Regions from separate parts of the Homo sapiens genome. Here region 1 is linked to region 2. A link means that fine-mapping ties the variant in region 2 to the expression of a gene that starts in the linked region. Tissue or cell type: whole blood. Region 2 holds a variant in brackets; the other region holds the start of a gene. All regions are shown on one strand. Distances are from middle to middle.

Region 1 (5,393 bases), 93 kb before region 2:
AAATCAGGGAGTTAAAAAATGCTTAACTTAGGCTGGGCACGGTGGCTCACGCCTGTAATCCCAGCACTTTGGGAAGCCGAGGCAGGCGGATCACGAGGACAGGAGATTGAGACTATCTGGCTAACACGGTGAAACCCCGTCTTTACTAAAAACACAAAAAGTTAGCAGGGCATGGTAGCAGGCGCCTGTAGTCCCAGCTACTTGGGAGGCTGAGGCAGGAGAATGGCGTGAACCCGGGAGGCGGAGGTTGCAGTGAGCCAAGATCGCACCACTGCACTCCAGCCTGGGCGACAGAGCGAGACTTCGTCTCAAAAAAAAAAAAAAAAAAGCTTAACTTTTGGCTGAGACTCCCAGGATTGTGTGTCTTGACTTGAAATTACTTTAGATCTGTACTGCTCTATATGGTAAAGACTACTATATGGGGCTACTGAGCACTTACAATGTTGCTAGACCAAGATGGGATGTGCTATCAGTGTAAAATACAACACTAGATTTTAAAGACTTGGTACCAAAAAAAATGTTAAATATCTCACGATGTTTTGTATTTTATTACATTTTGAAAATTTTGGGAGTTTTGGGTTAAATATATAATTACATTTTATTTCATTTGTTTCATTTTTTTTTTTTTTTTTTTTTTTTTTTTTTTTTTTTTTTTTTTTGAGACGGAGTCTCGCTCTGTCGCCCAGGCTGGACTGCAGTGGCACAATCTCAGCTCACTGCAAGCTCCGCCTCCCGGGTTCACGCCATTCTCCTGCCTCAGCCTCCCGAGTAGCTGGGACTACAGGCGCCCGCCACCACGCCCAGCTAATTTTTTGTATTTTTTTTAGTAGAGACAGGGTTTCACCGTTTTAGCCAGGATGGTCTCGATCTCCTGACCTCGTGATCCGCCCGCCTCGGCCTCCCAAAGTGCTGGGATTACAGGCGTGAGCCACCGCGCCCGGCCTTGTTTCATTTTTTTATGTGGCTATCAGAAAATTTAATATTACACATGTGGCTTGCTTTAGATTTCTACAGGACGGTGTTGTCCTAGACTATCTGCCTAAAAGGTATGTTGCATTTCCCCACAACATCCCTCCACCTCCTTTCACTTTAATCTATAATGAAACATCCTCTAAACTGTTTCATAGTTTTTCTTGTGTTAATATTTCTGATTGATCTTGATTGATATTTCTGATGCATGAGCTATTCTACCACCTCTGTGAACATGACTATTTTAAATAAGGCATAGTTTCCTACCACCATATTCAATGTTGGGTCTTACCACACCAAATCCCAGTGAACTGGAGATTTACCATTCTGTGGCTACTTTATTACTTATACCATGAACAATATGGTTAAGAACACAAGGACTGGAGCCTGGCCATCTGTTTTGGAGTCCTGACTCTAATACTTAATAGCTGTGTAACTTTGTTACTTTTTTTTTTTTTTGAGACGGAGTTTCACTCTTGTTGCCCAGGCTGAAGTGCAATGGCATGATCTCAGCTCATCGCAACCTCCACCTCCCGGGTTCAAGCGATTCTCCTGCCTCAGCCTCCCGAGTAGCTGAGATTACAGGCCTGCGCCACCATGCTTGGCTAATTTTGCATTTTCAGTACAGACAGGCTTTCTCCATGTTGGTCAGGCTGGTCTCGAACTCCTCACCTCAGGTGATCTGCCCACCTCGGCCTCCCAGTGTTGGGATTACAGGTGTAAGCCACTGCGCCCGGCTTACTTTGTTACTCTTAATATCTCTGTGCCTCAGTTCCTAAACTAAAAAAAGGAGATGATACAGTGTCCACTTCATAGGGCTGAGGATTAACTGATATTGGTAAAGAGCTTAGAATGGTACTGAGCATGCAGTATGTATGCAGTAATGAATACTATTTCTATCATTATACACATCTCTCACCCTTCCCACCTACTGATATGTTGGCACCTTTCCTGGTGGTGGTGTTTTATCCGAATCTGAGATTTTAAGCTCAGATCTTCTAACTCCAAACTGCTAGTTCCTGGATGAGTGGCATTTGAGTAAGGTACTAAATCTTTCTCATTTTTCAGTTTTCTCCTCTGTGAGAATGCCACCTTCCTTGCACAAGTCTGAATGACACAACATATATAAGGTTCCTTGCATGTTCCTTAGCATTTAACGAATATATCATATCACCTTTCTGGTTTATTACATGTGATTCTCACAACACACTATAAGACAGATATTTTATAAAGAAGGAAACAGGATCCGGGAAGACTCGCCTGAGGTTGCACAGATTAGCTACATGACAGCGCCAATATTGGAACGAGGTCTCAGTCCGACTCAAATGTTTTTTTCATGAAATTAAAGCTGCTTTTCTAAAAGCATGAGCCCTAGAACTAAATAAATTCATGCTGTTTATGGTATTCCAATGCCTAAAGAAATGCAAAAACCAGCAAAGTAAATCTACTGCCGTGTTGCCCATTGAAACTGCAACAGAAAGTCAAAATACAAGTTTTGTTAACACCGCTATAAGTCTTAGAGACGACGACGCGGGTGACATGTCAGTAAACAAAACAAAGCGAACAGTTACTCCTTTAGCTCCCCGAGGAAACTGCGGACCGCGTCCCATACACAGTCCGCAGGGGTACCATAGTCGGGCCTTCCGGGCTGGGCTGGTCCCTGCCGAGGCTACGCAGCCCGGCCACCCCCAGACCTAGAGGAGGCCAACGCCACGCCTGCCCGCCGGACCCTCCCCCTCGGATCTCGGGGCCCAGTGCTGCGCCCGCCCGCCCCTCACCTCCGGCTCCGGGCGCTCCGAGGCCATCACACAGCCCTCCCGCGCCGGCCCGGGCCAGTGAGGGTGTTCCACTCTTGACCCCTGACCTCGCTACCTCGGCACCCAGCAGGAACCGGAAGTTGGTGGGAGGGCCGAGTTCCAGTTTTCTGATTGGTGGACGAAGCCTTCTCGTAGGCGTTTGCTGACTGGAAAACCGGAAGTGAAATCGTGGCAGCCGCCTCGGCCGCCGCAATGCAGGTGAGAGTTGCGTTGGGCGTACTAGCGGCTGGCAAGCTTCGGGTACAGGGACCGAGAGTGGGCTGGCTAAGGAGAATGAAGAGTTGGGACTGAGAAGAGAGGGCAGAACCCACGGCTGATAAGGGAATGTGGGCTGGGGGGCGAGGCTAATTGGAGCGGGAGCGGCGGCGATTAGAGGTGGGGGTGGAGCTTGCCTGACAGGAGACAGTCGGGCTAAATCCGGAGGGAGGAGGCAGCACCTGTTTGCTTGGCGTGGGAAAGGATTAGGTTGTAATACGGGGAGGCTGAGATGCAGTCCAAGGAAGACGGCTCAAGAAGGTGGTGGGTTGGCTCAGGCCCTGTCCTAAGCTGCTGGATGGAGGCTGTTGGTTGCCGATATAGCAGGGGATCTAATTGGAAAGAAGCCCAAGCAGTGAGGGAATTGTGGGCCGCGATGGCTGAAAGCTAAGCAGCTTATAATCAGAGGCCATGGTGGAACCCGGGATCAAGTTTCTGTCAGGCAGGTTTGCAAGACAGTTTTGCATCCCTCTTCCCAGCCTGTGCCCTATAGTTGTTAAGGGTGAAGAAATGGAGTAAAACAGGAGACCACCGATGGGAAGGAAATGCTTTGCAGACCCCCAGCATTTTAATTTGTTTGTCCAGTGCTTAGAAGCATGTGTGGTTTTTGTTTTTCATTTGTCACTTAGTTTCTTGCAGCTGGTAGTCTCAATAAATGTTAATGGGTTGACTGAGCTTGTGAAAGAGGCACGGGAATATTGACACAGAGATAGATGATTGCATATTAATTCAGCAAGGAGAAGGTTGAAACAAAATGATGAGAGCAGATGGAAAGCTGGAGTCGTTGGTTGGGGGAGGGAAAGGGGAGAGCAGGACTGGTGTTCAGAGAAGTCTTCATGAGTAGGCAGATTTCCCAGAGACTGACAAGACAGCCAGGCTCACAGATGCTAGGATGGAGGAAGCTGGAGTGCATGTGCTACAGAGGTGCACATGAGAGAATGATCTCCTGGCATTAGGTCTGTCGAAAATGTCTCAGTGAGGGAGTGTAGGGTGTACCTAACACAGAGAAAAACCAGGCATAGATTAGGAGGTGATGGGGAAAAGGAATCAGTTGGTGGAAGGACTTGGGGTCAGGCAAACAGGTTGGAAGGTCTCAGGGTTGATGCTGTCTATAACCCAAATACCAAAGATAGAAAACAACCTGGCTATCCTATGCCAATGAGATCCTGTGTTACCTGACTGGTGTTGCACACCATCTCCTTGGCTTTCCAGCCCTCCTTTCTATGTGTCATACTCGTTTATCTGGGTGACCAACCTGTTCCTATTGGTGCAGAGAGAGGAGAAGCAGCTTGAGGCATCATTAGATGCACTGCTGAGTCAAGTGGCTGATCTGAAGAACTCTCTGGGGAGTTTCATTTGCAAGTTGGAGAACGAGTATGGCCGGCTGACCTGGTAAGAGTTACCAGGGCAAGCTAGGAAGGGCTTATGGGTGGGGGGGCCTAGCCTCCTGATGAATAGGACATTTCTAATGATGTAACCATTTATCAGTTTGCAAACATCTTTTGATTTGGAAAGAGCTGGGTTTCCTAACATTTAGCAAGTGGATTCCATGGCAAGGAAGTAGAGAAATGCTCAGTTTCCTAACCCAAGTTCTTTCTAGCTTTCAATTCTTACCCTTTGACTTCTCTGGTGAGGAGGTCCTCCCACTACAGCTCTATTCGTGCTGGATCTCTTGCCACAGATGTGGCTGAGTCTTTTAGAGCCAACCTACTCTGAAGTGTGGATCTTATTTCCAGGCTGGAAAGGAGGCTTTTACCCGGTTTCTGAAGTTTTAGTTATAACAGTGTAGCCCTGGTTCCTATTTTGCCACTGTTCCTCACCCCATTCAAACAATGAACTGGGTTTTTTCTACGTCTGTTTCATAAACTGAAACTATGTCCCTCTTTCATAGCCCTGTCATCCCTGTTAGTCTGTTCCCACTTAGGCTAGTCATAGGGCTATGAGACTTTTGGAGGTGAATCCAAGTGTTCCTAGCCTGAAGGAACTAGGACTATTTTACTAAGAACCACCCAGGGAAGGGGTACAACATTCTTACACCTTGTTACCACCACCAGGCCATCTGTCCTGGACAGCTTTGCCTTGCTTTCTGGACAGCTGAACACTCTGAACAAGGTCTTGAAGCATGAAAAAACACCGCTGTTCCGTAACCAGGTCATCATTCCTCTGGTGTTGTCTCCAGACCGAGATGAAGATCTCATGGTAAGAGGAGAAAAAGAATACAACTTGGGAAATTAAGGGGTTTTTTAGGCTTCTTTAGTATTTAGGGAAATTAAGTTATTAGCTGAGAGCCTAGAAATAATTTTGGAGGCCTTGCTTTTTGTTCTTCTGAAGGCGGGAGAGCCACTCCCAAAT
Region 2 (6,343 bases):
AAACTGAGGCTTGCTGTGCTCGAGGGCACCCTGAGGCTGTGGCAAGGCTGGGACTTGAACTTCTGACTTAGTCCTTGCTTTCTTGGTGCCAATCGCTCCACAAGGGCTCACATTAAGCAGTCCCGGGGAGCACACAGGGAGTATCGGTTGCATAGATAGTCCTCAGCTTAAGCTGCTAATGAAAGCTTCAGCTTATTGTCTGCCAGGTGTCATTCATTTTGCGGCAAACCCCTGCCTATTCCTGGGCACTGGGGCAGCAGAAGTCTGCCCAGGGAGGTGCACTCACTCTTGACGGCTGACAACAACCTGGGAGCAGTCGCACTGCTTTGGCAAAGTCTCTAAAGCCCCATGGATCTTGCCTCTGCTTCCCTCCCAGACTCACCTCTCCCTGCCCTGGCACCCGTTGCTCCACCTCTTGCCACCACTGGCAGTTCCCAGAACGGAACAAGACCTGTAGGTACAGAACGCCCACGAGGAGGCCCTTCCAGGGAGCAGAGGGAGCAACCGTTGGATGGGCAGCCTTGCTGGTTAAATCGATGACCCCTCTGACCCGGAATGGAATGGTTGGGATGGATGAGACTTGGTGTCAGTTTAGGTGACTTAGGTCTGGTAGTACAAACCCTCCCCCTGGGCCTGGGACATCTTCCCAGAGTGTGTTCTGGGTGAAGGCTTCATTCTCCTCTGAATGCACCGGGCTCACATTCACTTTTCTCAGGAGGCTGGGTCCCTGCAGCTTGGTTGAGCTGGTTTAGGCCCAGGGCTCTTCTGAAGCGCCCTGAAAAGTCCCAGGAGACGCTTTGACTCCTGGAGTAGCATAGAAAAGGATCGGGAAAGACCTCCCTACTGATGTGTGACCCACAGAGATTCCCATTCCTGGGCCTGAGGCTGGGAGGAGCTTTCTCTAGACAAGGCTTTGGGTGGGATGGGAGTAGGAGCAGGGGGAGAGTGGTGGATGCCTTACACTTCAGCTCATCCTGGTGCCAGACCTTTGAATCTGGAATGAAAAAGGAGCTGGAAAGTGCTGGGACTGTTTGTATGGCAGGATTCACTTTTGTGGAACTTTTCCTTTGGTTCTTGGAAGACCTGGGGGGCCTGATGTCATTTTGCAAATGTGTGGAGAGCACTTAGGCAGCATTCATTCTTGTTGGAAGTGACACAGATATTGGCACAGGTATTTGCTTTGAATGGAAAAGTTTGAGACTGCAGGATGCTGGCACATGCAAAGATTCTGAGCCCATCTGCCCTCCCCACTCTCAACTGGGAAACAAAAACTGGTAATAATGATCTGTACATAAATAAAATGTTAATGGAGTTTGTACACAAGAATTTGTATTATAAAACAATATCCTACAAGTGTAAAAGTATTTTTACATGTGTTGAGATTATGCTGCAAGTAATTTAAATAGCATCAGTTTACAAACAATATGTCCCAAATGAAATATTACTGCACACACAAATTTTGAGTGGGTTGTGTATACATCTGCTGTTGCAGATGTATAAGACGACTTAAGCCATAATGCACATCTTGAAGTCTCAGTCACTCGAAAGTTATAGGCCAAAAATAATGCAAATATGAAGTTCTACACATTGGAGGGTTAACCTCCAAACCCAAAACAAACTGAATTGATAATGATAGAGTTAAACTCAAGGCGCCAGGTCAACTCAAGGTAATTTATTTTTTAACAGCCAAGCTCAGTGGCTCACACCCGTAATCCCAGCACTTTGGGAGGCCGAGGCGGGCATATCACTTGAGGCCAGGAGTTCGAGACCAGCCTGACCAATGTGGTGAAACCCCGTCTCTACCAAAAATACAAAAATTAGCCGGGCGTGGTGGCACGTGCCTGTAATCCCAGCTACTCAGAAGGCTGAGGTAAGAGAATCGCCTGAACCCGGGAGGTGGAAGTTGCAGTGGAGCCGAGATCGCGCCACTGCACTCCAGCCTGGGTGACAGAGCTAGACTCCCTCTCAAAAATAAAAATAAAAATAAAAAAACTCTTCCTCACTACCATACTCACTATCAGTTTGGCAGAAGTCTGGGAGTTTTATAACACACTGTCTTGGCAAGGTTGTGGGGAAATAGGCATGCTCTATATAGGCATGTTGATGTAATTCTGATGGAGGGCAACTTGGGAATATCTGTCAAATTCATGAACACACGTATCCTTGACTCACAATTGCATTCTTGGGAATTTATCCTGCAGATATACTCCCACAGTACAAAATGTCATGGTTATTCATTGTAGCATTATATGTAATGGCAGAAGATTAGGACCAATTCCTGTGTCAATCAATGGGGAAATGGTTAAATAAATTTTGATGTAGCTATACAGTAAAATATAACAGCTGTGAAATTAGTTGAAGAAACTCTCCAAGTCTATATACTGGTTTTTAAAAGCTCTCTAAGACATACTAATTAGTAAGTGATAAAAAGAAGGTACAGAAGTGTATATTGTATGTTAGCGTTTGCCTAAAAAAGAAAAAAATAGGAATATATATTCATACTGCATGTACAGGTTGAGTATCCCTTATCCAAAATGCTAGGGACAAGAAGTGTTCAGATTTCAGGTTTTCTGAATTTTGGGATATTTTCATATACATAATGAAATATCTTGGGGATAAGACCCAGGTCTAAATATGGAATTCATTTATGTTTCATGCATACCTTATACACATAGCCTGAAGGTAATTTTAAACAATATTTCATATGATATATATGACCCATCACATGAGGTCAGGTGTGGATTTTTCACCTGTGGCATCACAAAGTGTTCAAAAAGTTTCAAATTTGGGAGCATTTCAGATTTCACATTTTCGGATTGGGGTGCTCAACCTGTATTTGCACAGGGTGAATATCTGTTGTGGTATTAAGTTCCACTTTGGAGGGAGTGCTCATTTGGAAACCATTCAAAGAATTTTTAAAAAATTTTTCTTTTATGTTAGTAAAGGTCCATCCCCTGTGGCCACCCCAGCGGGTTGGACTCACTGTTCTCCAAGTGACCGTCA[T/C]GATCAAGAGGGACAGGAAAGCCTGACTCTCCAAGTTCCACTCATTTCCCTTAACAGGTGGCTCAGACAACAAACTGCTTTATGCCCCTTAGAACATTCATTTGGGTCTTTTGTGTGGCTTCTTACAATGCCCTTAGGGTTTTAGACCACATGTAAATACATGTGGAAACATTTGACAGACTCTTAAAAATGTCTATGAATTTGATTTAATTTTCTCTATAGACAAACTCCATAGTCTTCTTGCAGAAATGATGCTCAGTTGAGATCCATTTGGGTGAAATTGTTATGCAAATTATGCATAAAAAAGCTGGTGAAATTCGGGACTGGATCAACAGAGGATGAGTCAGGGGGGAAAGAATGAACCTCTCTAAGTTGCTCCCCAAAAATGAAGTCAGGGCTATCTGAATTAAAGTGTCAAATTGGTACTCTTCTAAGTAACGGAGACCTCTCCCAATTAAACTTGCCAGACTGGGGTGGGTTACATGGGTGACCATGCAATTATTTTTCAAAATAGTGAGAGGCCCGGCACAGTGGCTCATGCCTGTAATCCCAGCACTTTGGGAGGTCGAGGCAGGCAGATCGCCTGAGGCCAGGAGTTCAAGACCACCCTGGCCAACATAGTGAAACCCCATGTCTACTAAAAATACAAAAAGATTAACCAGATGTGGTAGCACGCGCCTGTAGTCCCAGCTACTTGGGAGGCTGAGGCACAAGAATTGCTTGAACCCAGGAGGCAGAGGTTGCAGTGAGCTGAGATCATGCCATTGCACTCCAGCCTGGGTGACAGAGTGAGACTTTGTCTCAAAAAATAAAAAAGAATAAATAAAAGATAAACAGTGAGAGTCCCATCTTTGCTTCTTAAAGTCAAACTATTATATATAAACTATGTAAAGTCAGTATGTGAAGTAGAATGCTGCTTTGTTTTGCTCAGTGATTTTAAAGGGAAGGGGTAGTTGCAATTTTCCTCCCAAATTACATTCCTGTGTTCTCCTGAAGCATGCCCTTGTGTCTTGGCTCCTAGAATATTTTGAAAAGTATTTAAGATATTTCTTTGTTATGTGCAACTCCAAATGCTGGCATCTTTTTATATGCCAATAAGTGCCTTAACTCTCTGTACTGTTTGTCACAATTGCTTTTCGAAGAACCAAGTAAATGCTGCCCAAACAAATTAGAAAGTTTTCTTTTGGTTGAAATAAGCAACACTTTAACCCAATTCCTAAGTTCTGCCTTTGCCTGAAATTGACTTTACTGATAAATCATTCTTCATACTGATCAGCAAAGAAAGGAAAAATATCTTGTTCTTGTTGTTGTCCAAAAAAAAGAAAAGAAAAAGAAAGTAATTCTTTTAAGATTTTGTTTAGGTTAATAGTAACAATGGTTGGTACTTTCACTTAACTTCAGCAGCAACTAAAGCCACATTGTCAATTCAAAAACAGTTTTTGTTGTTCTTCCAGGAAATAACTCTGTAGTGAGAGGAAGTTTGCAGTAAATGCTTTTGGAGCATCAGGCTGAGGCTGTGTCCCTGAAGCTAGTGTGTGTGTGTGTGTGTGTGTGTGTGTGTGTGTGTGTGTGTGTGTGTGTTTTCACTCTAGTCAGAAAAGACGTGCCAGGTGTTTGTGACAAGCTGTGATGAGGACTGGAGATTACTTGGAATCCATTGTGTTCTTTTCCTTGTTGGAAAAAGAAAGCTTCTAAAAACAAGCCCTTATTTAAAGGAAGCCCCAGTTAATTCAACAAGGCTCTGAAAGAAGTCCCTTTTATAGAAACTGCTTGACAAAGGCCATTTGGCCCAGAGGAGTCCTGTGAGGTCAGAAACTGAAATCAACACCCACATAGGGTTCAGGCAGTTAGAAGCTCAGAGTGTACTTAGTAAAGCATAACAAACTTTTACCCACTTTGGTCAGAATGGAATTTACCCAGCAATGCAGAGTCTTATGCTAGAACACCAACAAACCTCAATTATAATGGCTAACAGTTGCTACGGGTTTACAGGTGCCGGGAAAAGGTGATGCCTACACCTCATGGACTCTCAGCCTTTTGAGATGGGTGTCACTATTATTATTATTATTATTATTGTTATTTTGAGATGGAGTCTCGCTCTGTCACCCAGGCTGGAGTGCAATGGCACAATCTCGGCTCACTGCAACCACCACCTCCTGGGTCCAAGCCATTCTCCTGCGTCAGCCTCCTGAGTAGCTGGGATTACAGGCTAATTTTGTATTTTTTTTTAGTAGATATGGGGTTTCTCCATGTTGGTCGGGCTCAGGCTCGTCTCGAACTCCCGACTTCAGGTGATCCGCCCTCCTTGGCCTCCCAAAGTGCTGGGATGACAGGCGTGAGCCACCGCACCCAGCCGGGTGTCATTATTATGATCCCCATTTTGCAGATGAGGAAACAGATGCATCCTCAGGTTAGTTAAGTGATGGTGTTCAGCTTTGACCCCAGACAGTTTGATCCACAGCCAGAGAGCTTAACTATGCCCAAGGCCTGTTAGACTATACTACCTAGACAGGAAGAAGGCCAGCACACCCAGGGAGGCTGCTTTCATCTGCATGTCATCCTTCAAACTCTTAAAAATGATTGAAGAAAAACAATCCTTTTGTATCCAGCATGCATCTGAAATTTTATTCTGGAAAACAATGAGCTCAACTCTGTGCTGTGTGATGATGGAGTGGTGCCCTTTAAAAGGCAAGGGCTGACCAGGAGAGATGGGCAGGCATGAATTTTAAGGATGTCTTGCCTTTAAGTTCCATCAGGTCCTTGCTTTAGCTCAGGTCACTCTGAAATCCTAGAAGAATAGCACACCCAATAGCACATGACACAAGTGACTCATTGTTCTTCTGCCTCAAACAACAGCAGCCTACTTAGCATACAAAACACATTTTATGAGACAAAGCTGGCTCGGGCCACAGCCACGCATTCTTTGCAGGAGCCACACATGGGGGCTGCTTTCTGGTTGTTCAATCTTACTTTGTTTATTTATTATTATTATTATTATTACTATTACTTTAGAGACAGAGTCTCGCTCTATTACCCAGGCTGGAGTGCAGTGGCGCAATCATAGCTCACTGCAGCCTCGAACTCCTGGGCTCAAGCAATGCTCCCACCTCAGCTTCCTGAGTAGCTGGGACTATAGGTGTGTGCTACCACCCCTGGCTTCAATCTTACTTTGAGGATAAGAGGTAGTGACAACACAAGTCCATTAGTGCTCATGATGCATGATTTATTTCGTGGTGACACAGGGATGATGAGGAAAGGCTTGAAGGCAGTGTCTCAACTCCTCTTTCCCTAGCCCTTTCTCCCTGAAGGCATATTGGTGCTTTGCCAGCTCCACCCTTGC

What was found. PIP is the estimated chance that this variant, and not a neighbour inherited with it, causes the effect.
Region 1: it holds the start of MED8, and the variant in region 2 is fine-mapped to the expression of MED8 in whole blood (INTERVAL, PIP above 0.99).

What each region holds. Positions count from the first base shown.
Region 1 is chr1:43,387,350-43,392,742 of GRCh38, reverse strand. MED8 (mediator complex subunit 8) reads left to right here and starts at 2,943. Exons shown (of 7, transcript NM_201542.5): 1 at 2,943-2,984; 2 at 4,315-4,433; 3 at 5,096-5,240. The coding sequence starts at 2,979. It overlaps SZT2 (SZT2 subunit of KICSTOR complex), which reads right to left and starts at 2,844. Exons shown (of 72, transcript NM_001365999.1): 1 at 2,748-2,844. The coding sequence starts at 2,774. RefSeq lists a silencer at 2,524-2,853 and an enhancer at 4,294-4,433.
Region 2 is chr1:43,294,076-43,300,418 of GRCh38, reverse strand. No RefSeq gene overlaps it. Among named protein-coding and RNA genes, the nearest start is that of TIE1, 3.7 kb to the left of the region's middle. The variant T/C (reference allele first, on the strand shown) is at 3,004.